Linked DNA regions of Homo sapiens: region 1 is linked to region 2. The links come from fine-mapping of genetic effects on gene expression. A gene starts in region 2. The other region holds a variant in brackets. All regions are shown on one strand. Distances are between the middles of the regions.

Region 1 (5,358 bases), 59 kb before region 2:
GTTGAGGGCTCACTGACCCTCAGGGCAGCTTTTGAGCCATCGCTGCCCCTCAGGTACCTGAGGGCAGGGGAAGCACCGTTGGTGTCCGGCTACCGAGCAGCAGAGGTGGGAAGCCGCCTTGGGTTCTGTCTGCTCTGGGGGCTCAGGCCTCCAGGGATTTGGTAGTCCCCAACCCCTCCCAGCCCTGGGCACATGGGCAGGACACAGCTGGGGAGCAGAGCAGAGTACACCAGGGCAGAGAAGGGAAGTCTCTGGGCTAGGACCAAGAGCCAGAGATGCAGAGAGGAAGCAAGATGGCGCGAACGAGGAGGCCCCTGGTTCACCACGTAGTCTGCCCAGTTACTAGAGCCAGAAAGTTAGTCGGCTGCAGAGCTGAAGCTGGTCTTTTCTACCCTGGCTCCACCTGGGCTCTAGCCCAGGCTGCGGTCATTTTCAGCTGTGACAGCAGCTTTGACAGCCTCCTAATGGGCCATTTCCTGCAGACGTCAAGGTGTGACTTGGACAGTAGGCCAGGGCCTGGGGTCCATGCCAGGGACACCTGACTGCCCAGTCCCAACCCTGGAAGCACCTCCTAGGCTTCCTTTTTTTTGAAACAGGGTCTCATTCTGTCACCCAGGCTGGAGTGCAGTGGCACCATCTCGGCTCACTGTAACCTCCACCCCCTGGGCTCCAGCGATTCTACTGAGTAGGTGGGATTACAGGCACTTGCCATCATGCCGTTTTTTGTTTTTTTTTTTTGAGATGGAGTCTCGCTGTGTCGACCAGGCTGGAGTGCAATGGCGCAATCTCAGCTCACTGCAAGCTCCGCTTCCCAGGTTCACGCCATTCTCCTGCCTCAGCCTCCCGAATAGCTGGGACTACAGGCACCCGCCACCACGCCCGGCTAATTTTTTGTATTTTTAGTAGAGACAGGGTTTCAACGTGTTAGCCAGAATGGTCTCGATCTCCTGACCTCGTGATCCACCCGCCTTGGCCTCCCAAAGTGCTGGGATTACAGGCGTGAGCCACCGCACCCAGCCTACATGTCAATTTTTTTTTGTATTTTTAGTCAAAGACGGAGTTTTACCGTGTTGGCCAGGCTGGTCTTGAACTCCTGGCCTCAAGTGATCCATCCACCTCAGCCTCCCAGAGTGCTGGGATTACAGGCATGTGCCACTGTTCCCAGCCTCCTCCTAGGCTTTTGAGAGAAACAGACTGTGACTGCCCCAAGTCCTAGTCCCAGCCTAGACACCCCAGGACACCCTTCCTGAGGAAGCCAAGGAAGCAGCCAAGGTGAAAACAGAATCAAGAGTCAGATGTCAAACTATAGAGAATACAGAGCTCAAGGAAGGGCACCCAAAGACTCAGCCCCGCAGCTCCCGCTGCACAGAAGTAATGGTGTCAGTGCCAACCGTGCATTTTCAGGCTAAGACTCAGCCCCGCAGCTCTAGCCGTGCAGAAGCGACAGCATCAATGCCAACCATGCATTTTCAGGCTACTGGGTTTTGCACCTTGTCTACAGTTTCCTCACCCCAAGATTATTTTAAATTTTTTTTATTTTTTTTGAGACAGGGTCTGACTGTCACCTAGGCTGCAGTGTGGTGGCTCAATCAGGGCCCACTGCAGCCTGTGTCTCCCAGGTTCAAGTGATCCTCCCACCTCAGCATCCCAAGTAGCTGGGACTACAGGCGCTCACCACCACGCCTGGCTAATCTTTGTATTTTTGGTAGAGATGGGGTTTTGCCACCTTACTCAGGTTGGTCTCAAACTCCTGGGCTCAAACAGTCCTCCTGCCTCAGCCTCCTAAAGTGCTGTGATTACAAGCATGAGCCACTGCGCCCAGCTGATTATTCTTTAAAGTTTACAGTTTTCTTCAATTTATTTTTTGGTTTCATTTTTAAAATCTTAAAATGTGGGAGCCATCTGAGAAGTATGTGGGTGTACGTGGGGCCAGGCACCAGTATCCTGGGCACCCAAGGTGGCCGTTTGTCTTTCTATGGATTTGAGGCTCACATGTCCCCCAGCAGCTCAGTCACACTCTATCACAGAGTTCAGGCCAAGGAATCTCATCTTTCTGGGTCACTGTACACGGGACAAGTCTCCCAGGAGGCACTGAGCTCAGCCCTCCCCATACCGCGTGCACCAAATACTCCCAGCCCAACCCTGGGAGTTTCACTCCTCTAGACACAGACCAGGGTGGCACAGGACAGCCAGGACAGAAGGTGGCACCTGTGCCCTACCCAAAGCCCAATCCCCAGCCCACCAGGCTGGGCAGTCCTGGGCTGCCCTGACCGGGAGACATTACAGGACAGTGACCTGTGCAGCCCC[C/G]GAGGCCAGGAGAGAGCAGGGTGATGAGTTTCTAAAACCGCCTTCCACTTTCTATCAGAGAGCCGGCCCTGCAGAGGTGTGACCGACAGCCAGGGGAGAAGGAAGGAGCCTTAGAGGACCCGGGCTCGCTCTCTCTTCCATCGTTTAGTTGTTTGTGTCATTTGATGGCCAGGTCTCACCTAGCAGGAGCCAGACTCTGTGCCACACCCAACCAAAGATCCAACCCTGGAATCTGTACCACGACCAGGGAGGAAAAAATAAGGAGGGAGCTTTATTTAATATGAAGGTTGAGGCAGGGCCGGGGCGGGAGGGCGCTGTCACTTGGTGATGGTGTTCCTGCAGAGAAGAACAGGGGCGTGAGGCTGCAGAGGCGGGCACAGGCCACGCCACCCCTCCCCACCACACCCTACCCCACCAGCCTCGAGCCACTCACGCGTTCATGCTCTTGCCGCTGCCGCTGAGCACGATGTAGGGGGTCTTCTGAGCCTTCTGCTTCTCCTGGAGCAGGGCCACGGTGCCCAGGGGCGTGTCGCTGGAGCTCATCTTCTTCAGGAGCTGAGGGGTCGGGGCCACTCAGAAAGGGCTGCAGCAGGCCCCACACACCAGCCACCCCTGCCCCGGCAGGCACAGGGCCCCCCACATCCCCAAGGGCACCCACCGCCTCCTCGTCCAGCTTCTTCATCCGCCGCTCTGTCTTCATCTTGCCTGAGCCCTTGCCATGGAAGCGGTGCGACAGCTGCCGGAAAGCCTGGGGACGCGGGGCATGAGAGGAGATGCAGGGCCCTGGGTGGGGCCGGAGCCACCTGTGCCCACAAGGTGTATAATAACAGGGCGGGTGTTGATTGACCCCAATGCCAGGCCTGGGGTGCAGTGGGAAGGGGATGGGAAAAGAGCACAGACGCTGGCACCCTGCAGGGCCCCAGCAGAGGCCGGGAGACCAGCTTGGCTAGTGGATGCGCTGCCATGGGGGCAGAGCATGGGGAACCTGGAGACCTGCCACGCAGGGGCTGGGCCTGGACGCTGGGGCTGGGGCTGGGGCTGCAGGGAGACAAACCCCAGAGAGCAAGGGGGCAGCTGAGTGGTAGGGCAGGACGGTCGGGCGGCCTACGAGAGTGCTGGAAGGGCCTGGACGCTGGAATGGCCCTGCGGGCCAGGAAAGCCAGTGAAGGGCTCACGCAGGTGAGGACAGGAGGGCAGAGGTCCCGAGTGCCTGTCTGACCCTCCTGCCAGGCTTGCAAAGAGACTGCTGTGCCCACTAGAGACAAACTGAGGCACAGCCTTCCTCAGCCCTGAGGGCCCCCTCCCCATCCGTGGCATTCACCAGGCCCCCAGCCAGAGGCTGGTGGAGCCAGGACCCTGGGGCATTGCATGGCCCGGGGCATTGCATGGCCCTGGGCTTGGCCTCCCTGTGGCAGGCCGGGCCTCCGCCTGCAAAAGGCCCTGCTCACCTCCTTGGGTGTGAGTTTCCGGCCCGTCTCATCCACGTATTCGATCTTAACGTCGGGTTTGTAGCCGTCCTTCTCCTTGAAGTCCTGTGTGAAGCCTCGGTATTCCTCCCTCCGGCTGTACTTGTCATCGATGGCCCTGGCCCGAGACAGAGGAGGCCTTAGTGTGAGGAGCTGCCGCCTGCTGTGGTCCCGAAGCTCCAAGCTGGCACAGGCCCCTCAGCCCTGCACAGGCCCCACCACACTCACATCTTATCCTCGATGCAGTACACGGCTGAGGGCAGCGACTTGTTGGGGGCCTTCACCCGGGCCACCTTCTGCACTGTGGTCTCCAGCAGCCCTAGGGATGGAGGGGTTGTGAGACTCCCAACCCCTCGAGAGCCACAGCTCCAGGGCCGCCTGAGAAGGCAGAGCAGGCCCTGTGGGGGCACCTCCCTTTCCTTGCCTCTGGAAAGCCATCAGGCCTGTTCTACAGGCAAAGCAAAGATGCAGAAATGAGCCCCTTGCCAAGGGTCACTGGCCAGGGAAATGGCAGAGCTGGGGTCCTAACACCAGGGCTCTCTGTGCCACAGCTGGAACAGTTTCAACTCCCCTCTCCTTCCCCAAGCAGGTGTGGAGCCTCAAAGGCAGAGCAGACGGACAGATGCCACAGTGGAGGGGAAGGAGTGGCTCTGGGCCGGACAGCTGGCTCCAGCATTGGGACTGAGAGAAAGGGGCAGCAGAGGGGACCGGAGGGGGCCCTGCCTGCACCTGCAGCAGCACCCAAGCCCACCCAAGTCATGGCTGCCCTGAGCTCCCTACCTTTGTTCTGACACAGGAGCAGGGCAGCTGCCAGCCCCCTATTCACGATCGGTTCCTCGTCCAGGATGGTGGTGGAGGAAGCAGAGAACTACGGGACACGTGGCGGGGGTGGTTAGCAGGCCATACCGGCTCTTCTCAGCCCCACCCACTGGTCACCACCTGCCAGGCACCAGCCCTCCACAACATTTAATTTCCTCATTTACTCCTCAGATCGCCCTGGGAGGTCTGCAGAGCCCACTCTGGATGAGGAGGCTGAGGCTCTGGACACCGAGCCCGGTGCTCATCTCCAGCTTGAGCACCCCCAAACGCCCACCCCCCAGCGGCGCGGCCCTCACATCCTGCTGCTGCTTCTCCTCGTCCAGGTTCACCGTGCTCCAGCCGATGTTCTCCTCCCCGTCAGATTCGGAGCCACCGTTGGCTGAGCGCTCCTCATCCCGTTCAAAGTCCTGGGGCACAAAAGACCAGGGTCGGCCCAGGCCCCAGCCAGCCCACCCAGCCGAGGGAAGCAGAGGGCGGGGCCGCCCCAGACGCACCATGAGCTCCTCCTGCTCCTCGCGATTGCCAGCCAGCCCGTAGGTGGGGATCTCCCCCAAGGTGCGGCAGAACTCGGACGTGGCGTTGAACACGATGGCCCCCTTCCGCTCGGGATCCTCATCCTCCTCCCAGCCCCGCTGGCGAGACTCCAGCTTCTTCACAATCTCCACCACCTGGGGGAGGGAGCGGCTGTGGGCAAACCCAGCAGTTTCTGGGGTGATGCCATTGAGACCCAGGAACCTAAGGGTCCTCCCTGGCAGCAGCCAGACAG
Region 2 (5,358 bases):
CTGCGCCCTCCCCAGCCTCACCGAGTACCTCTGCTTTACAGGCAGCACAGCTCCTGGGTCTGCTCTGAAAGGTTATCTGGATGAACAGACTGTGTCACTGCCCTGCTCAAAAACCACCTTCAAGACCCTCCACCATCTCTCTATGTTTGCTCCTTTCCACCTGCCCTTCACTACACTGGACACAGGACTCTACAGTTTCCAAGACCTGTACCTGTTCCCTGTCCCACTTATCCCTTCACAGCAGACTACAGGGGGCAGAACAGTCTCCATCAGAGAGACAAGGGGCTGCTCAGAGCAGGGCAGCAGCCCGCCGGGGGTCAGCAGCCCACCGGGGGTCAGCAGCACCACGTGGCAAGTGTCCCCCGCATGCCCAGCACTTGCAAGCTCTCCCAACTCCCTTCTGTCCGCAGCTGTGGTGCACTCAGCAGACCCAGGGCCTCCAGCCTCCCCGGATGACCCCTCTCTCCCCTCGCTGCCACCTCACCTGCCACTGACGCGGCCCCAGCTCCCAGTTTCTTTTTTTTTTTTTTTTGACATGGAGTCTCACTCTGCTGCCCAGGTTGGAGTGCAGTGGCGTGATCTCAGCTCACTGCCACCTCCACCTCCCAGGTTCAAGCGATTCTCCTGCCTCAGCCTCCCTAGTAGCTGGGATTACAGGCATGCACCACCACACCCAGCTAATTTTTGTATTTTTAGTAGAGACGGGGTTTCACCATGTTGGCCAGGCTGGTCTTGAACTCTTGACCTCAGGTGATCTGCCCGCCTCAGCCTCCCAAAGTGTTGGGATTACAGGCGTGAGCCACCGCACCCGGCCCCAGCTCCCAGTTTCATGTGGGGAAGGCAGGTGGGTGGATGGGATGGCAACCATGACGTCCTGCGCAGAGCCTGGAACAGACACTGAGATTCCCTTTTATTTTTTTTTTTAATAAATTTAAGAACAGCTCTACCTTCTCTCCTCCCCCCAGAGCAACTAAAACCAACTAAAAGGGGCTATGGTCTGGGGGGCAGAAGGCGCTAGGAGTCGTAATCTTCTTCGTCCTCTTCATCAGGTGCTGAGGGGCCCGGGGGCGCTGGGGGCAAAGGCAGAGTAGAGGCGAAGGGCAGGAAGGGTGTCGGGGGGCTGCAGGGCAGAAGGCAGGAGAGAGTCAGGCCTGAGCCCCACCGTGCCCTCCACAGGGGCAGCTGCCAAGACCCTCCCTCCCCCATCTGACCCTCCCACCACCACCCTCCAGATCCATGCGGCCAAGGCCCAGGGCAGCTCACGCAGGGCAGGCCCAGGCCCCACCCACGGGCCCTGGCAGGGTGGAGCAGGATCTTTCGGGAGAACAGTCTCCTGCCTTCAAGCCCTCCTCAGTTATTCTCCTTCCACCCCACAAATCTGCCACAATCAACAAGACCAAGGGGCCAGGGAGAACAAGAGGGGTAAGTTGGCTCTGGGGAGTCTGCCAGCACCCTCCCATGCCTCTGGGCTGCTCACCTCTGAAAGTGGGCAGAGGGGTGGCTGGCCTGGGGTGGGGGTTGTGATGTCTCCTCTTCCCCATCAGTATCTGTGTCCTCAGATTCATCCTGTGAGCACCGCAGAGGTCAGAGTTGACAAGAAAAGACACGAACCCATCACTGGGAGTGGCAGGGACAGCAGTAGACCCTCATAGCCCCAATTTACAAATAAACCAGTGAGCAAACAGGTTGCAGAAAAGGATGAGAGCTGGCCTCCTGCCAGTTCAGCCTGGGGCGAGGCTGCCTGTCCCATCACCAAGGGCAGGGCGAAGGGCTGGGGCCTCACTCACCTCCTGCTCCGAGTCTGTCCCGGACAGCTTCTTGTCCTTGCTTTTCGTTCCCATCCCACCGTTCTTCCGGCCGCCGCTGCCTGGCTTCCGGCCCCTTTGGGAAGGTACAGTCCATCTGCCCGGAGTGCTCCCTACTCCTTGGCCACCCCCAAGCCCTGTGGCCTTGGCCTTCCCCACTGTATGCCAGGCCCTGGCCCCACCTGCGGGCGCCCTTGTCCCCATCCATGTGGTTGTCTTCCCCGTCCCCCTGCATGTCGGGAACAGATGCCACCAGGTCCTTCAAGAAGTCAAACTGCTGCTCCAGCTCGATGCACTGCTTCCTGGAAGAGGTGAGGAGGGGCTGGCACTCAAGAGGGGCCCAGACACCCAAACCCGCAGTGGGTGGCAGCAAGGGGCCCCAGATGTCAGGCTGGAGCCCGGGCCGATCTCCGCTCCCGGGCCTGCCCTGCTTTACTCAGGTGGCTCCCTCTGCCTGGAAGCCCAGCCTCTCCTCTGCCAGTCTGTGGCCTTGCTGGTGTCCCGGCTGCCGCCCACCTCCCTCGCCACCCAGGCTCTGCCTTCCTCAGTGTGTGAACTCCCCGCGCCAAACCCGCCGGCCCCTCCCGGCTCCTCGCCGCTCACAGGTGGGATGTGGTCATGGTCTTCGCGTTCCGCGACTGGGTCACCTGGCAGGCCTTCTTCAACAGCGACTCTAGGAAGAGCTCGAGCGCCCGGGCTGAGGAGCGTCAAGGAGAACTCCGGGGCAGGAGAGGGCGACCCGCTGCCTCCCTCCCCCACGCCCCTCGACCCGGTCCGCCCCCGGCAGGATACAGATGATGACAGGCACCGCCGCCGCCACCTTCCCAATCTCTTCGTCCGTCTGCATGATCTTCTTGATCCGCGCCTGCGGGTGGGGGAGCAGAGTTCAGACCCCGTCGCCACCGTCCCCTAAGGGGGTGCTGGGGGAGGAAGGGGCATCCCCGGAGAAAGGGGGCGGGGGACACGGACGCGGGGAGGGCATGGAGGGGGCGGGGCGTCCAGGCCCCCGAACACCGCGGCGCGCCCGCCTGCCCAGCGGGAACTGGGCCCAAGCCACCCGGGAGCCGGGCCCACTCCTGCCGGGCTCTGCCACGTGCTCACCGGCGGGAACCGCGCGTTGTACTTCTTCTTCTTGCTCGGCATCTCGGGGCCTCTCTCGCCGCGTCGGGTCCAGCGCCGCCGCCCGCAGCCTCCCGGCTCCCGGGCCTGCTCGCCGCCCGCCCGTCGCGGTTCCCCTGGGTCCTGGTGCCGCCCGCTCCGCCCCCGCCGTTTCCCGCGGAGTCCTAGCGCCGCCGGTTAAGACGCCGCTCGCAGGGCCCTAGTGCCCTCCTCTTGAAGCCTCCTGGCCGGTGCGCGTCCCTCCCCAGTCTGGACCGCCGCTCCCGCCCGCCCCCAAGGCCAGAAGAGCGAACGTTGGCCCCGCCCCCCGCGGCCCGCCCCTCCCGGGGTTCCCGCGATGGCCCCGCCCCCGAGTCAGCACCTCCCCGTCGGCCCCGCCCCTTCCCCTGCCGGCCCCGCCCCACAGCGCGGCCGCTGCGGCCGCTGAGGCCCGCGGCTCCGCCCTGTGGCTGCGCCTGTCTATAAAGTTGTTGTTGAGGTGGCGCGGCGCTAAGATGGCGGCGGCGGCGGCGGCGGCCGTGGCGGGGGTGGGGCGCGGTGGCGGTGGCGCGGAGCCACGGCAGGAGCGGAGCCGGGCCCGGGGCTGGGCCGGCGTCGAACGCAGCGAAGGCCGGAGGTGACTGCGGGCGGCGGGAGGGGCAGGGCAGGGCCGGGGCGGGAGCACAGCTCGGGCCCGTGGGCGTTAATGGCGGCGGGCGCGGCACGGCCGGAGCCTGGCTCTCCTGCAGGCTCTAACAAGCCCTGGTTCGAGTCTGGGAACCGCCCCATTGGCCTCGGAACGGCCTGTAACCTCTCTGGACTTCAGCGTCCTCGTCTGTAAGTGGGCCCGATAACGCCTGCCTGGGAGGCCTGGCCTTACAGAGCCGGCCTCGGGAGCTGCGCGAACGTGCGCTTCTTTGCGTTCCTCTATTAAATGCCAGCGCACCGGATACCTGCCAGGAAAAGGGGGCCTTGGCAGGGCCGGGAGGTGTAGCTGGGGCTGGTTGCTCCCACGCCTGGATTCACCCTTCGGCCCTGCCACGCACTGCAGGTGTGACCTTGGGCAAGTCCTTTTTCTCAGCCTCAGTTTCCTTTTCTGTAAGTCAAGGAGAATAGTAATAACTGCAGCAACCCTTCTGGAGCGCTGACTCCTCAGGCATCTAATTTTCATAGCAGATCTACGGGACAGGAACAGTTGTTATCCCATTGTAAAGATGAGGCAACTGAGGCGCATCGACAGTAACTCTTACTCAAGGCCACAGTTTAATCCAGTGCCTGGCATCTGTAGTTATTGTCTCAGACCCTGCCCTGACTCGGTTCCCTCACAGCAGGATGGAACCAGGTGAGGAGCTGGAAGAGGAGGGCTCTCCAGGTGGCCGTGAGGATGGCTTCACCGCCGAGCACCTGGCTGCAGAGGCCATGGCAGCTGACATGGACCCCTGGCTAGTGTTTGATGCCCGCACAACGCCTGCCACTGAGCTGGATGCCTGGCTGGCCAAGTACCCACCATCCCAAGTTACCCGCTATGGGGACCCCGGTTCACCCAACTCAGAGCCTGTGGGCTGGATTGCAGTGTATGGGCAGGGCTACAGCCCCAACTCCGGGGACGTGCAGGGCCTGCAGGCAGCCTGGGAAGCTCTGCAGACCAGTGGGCGGCCCATCACACCGGGTACCCTGCGCCAGCTCGCCATCACCCACCACGTGCTCTCGGGCAAGTGGCTTATGCATCTGGCACCGGGCTTCAAGCTGGACCACGCCTGGGCTGGCATTGCCCGGGCCGTGGTTGAAGGCCAGCTTCAGGTGGCCAAGGTGAGCCCACGTGCCAAGGAGGGTGGGCGCCAGGTCATCTGTGTTTACACGGACGACTTCACGGACCGCTTGGGTGTACTGGAGGCGGATTCAGCCATCCGTGCAGCGGGCATTAAGTGCCTGCTCACCTACAAGCCTGATGTCTACACCTACCTGGGCATCTACCGGGCCAATCGCTGGCACCTCTGCCCCACTCTCTATGAGAGCCGTTTCCAGCTTGGGGGTAGTGCCCGTGGCTCCCGAGTGCTTGACCGTGCCAACAACGTGGAACTGACCTAGGGGGGCCAAATTGGGGAGACTGCCCACTCCCCCCTCCATGCTGGGGTTGGATCCTCCTGTCTTCCTCCTTGTCCTATGAAGGCCACACCCCCCAGCTCTGGGGACTCCTAGGTCACTTGGGAACTACCTGCATCTTCAGTCCCCTTGAACTTCTGCCCTCTGTTCAGGGCTGACACAAGCCCCACAGGCTGGGGGGCTCCGGTTCCCTGAGGGATGAGCCTTCAGCCTCCCTTTGTAATGCTGCTCCTCTCCACTGCCCAGCACCATGAGTTGGGTGCAGACACCTAGAAGGAGAGACTTCTTGGAACGCTCATCCCCCGCTATACCTCCCCTTCCTCCTGCATCTCCCCTTCTTTCCTTCCCCCTC

What was found. PIP is the estimated chance that this variant, and not a neighbour inherited with it, causes the effect.
Region 1: its variant is the best candidate, but not a certain one, in a credible set for the expression of DRAP1 in whole blood (INTERVAL, PIP 0.59).

Annotation. Positions count from the first base shown.
Region 1 is chr11:65,976,297-65,981,654 of GRCh38, reverse strand. It overlaps SART1 (spliceosome associated factor 1, recruiter of U4/U6.U5 tri-snRNP), which reads right to left. Exons shown (of 20, transcript NM_005146.5): 13 at 5,087-5,260; 14 at 4,889-4,999; 15 at 4,554-4,641; 16 at 4,002-4,092; 17 at 3,756-3,891; 18 at 2,966-3,055; 19 at 2,741-2,862; 20 at 1,518-2,643. The coding sequence ends at 2,625. Among named protein-coding and RNA genes, the nearest start is that of SART1, 17 kb to the right of the region's middle. The variant C/G (reference allele first, on the strand shown) is at 2,308.
Region 2 is chr11:65,917,092-65,922,449 of GRCh38, reverse strand. It overlaps DRAP1 (DR1 associated protein 1), which reads right to left and starts at 3,024. Exons shown (of 7, transcript NM_006442.4): 1 at 2,907-3,024; 2 at 2,598-2,670; 3 at 2,409-2,502; 4 at 1,988-2,107; 5 at 1,788-1,881; 6 at 1,478-1,566; 7 at 887-1,120. The coding sequence starts at 2,948. The coding sequence ends at 1,015. It overlaps C11orf68 (chromosome 11 open reading frame 68), which reads left to right and starts at 3,388. Exons shown (of 2, transcript NM_001135635.2): 1 at 3,388-3,540; 2 at 4,232-5,358. The coding sequence starts at 3,419. The coding sequence ends at 4,991. RefSeq lists enhancers at 2,431-3,351, 3,352-4,271 and a silencer at 2,565-3,634.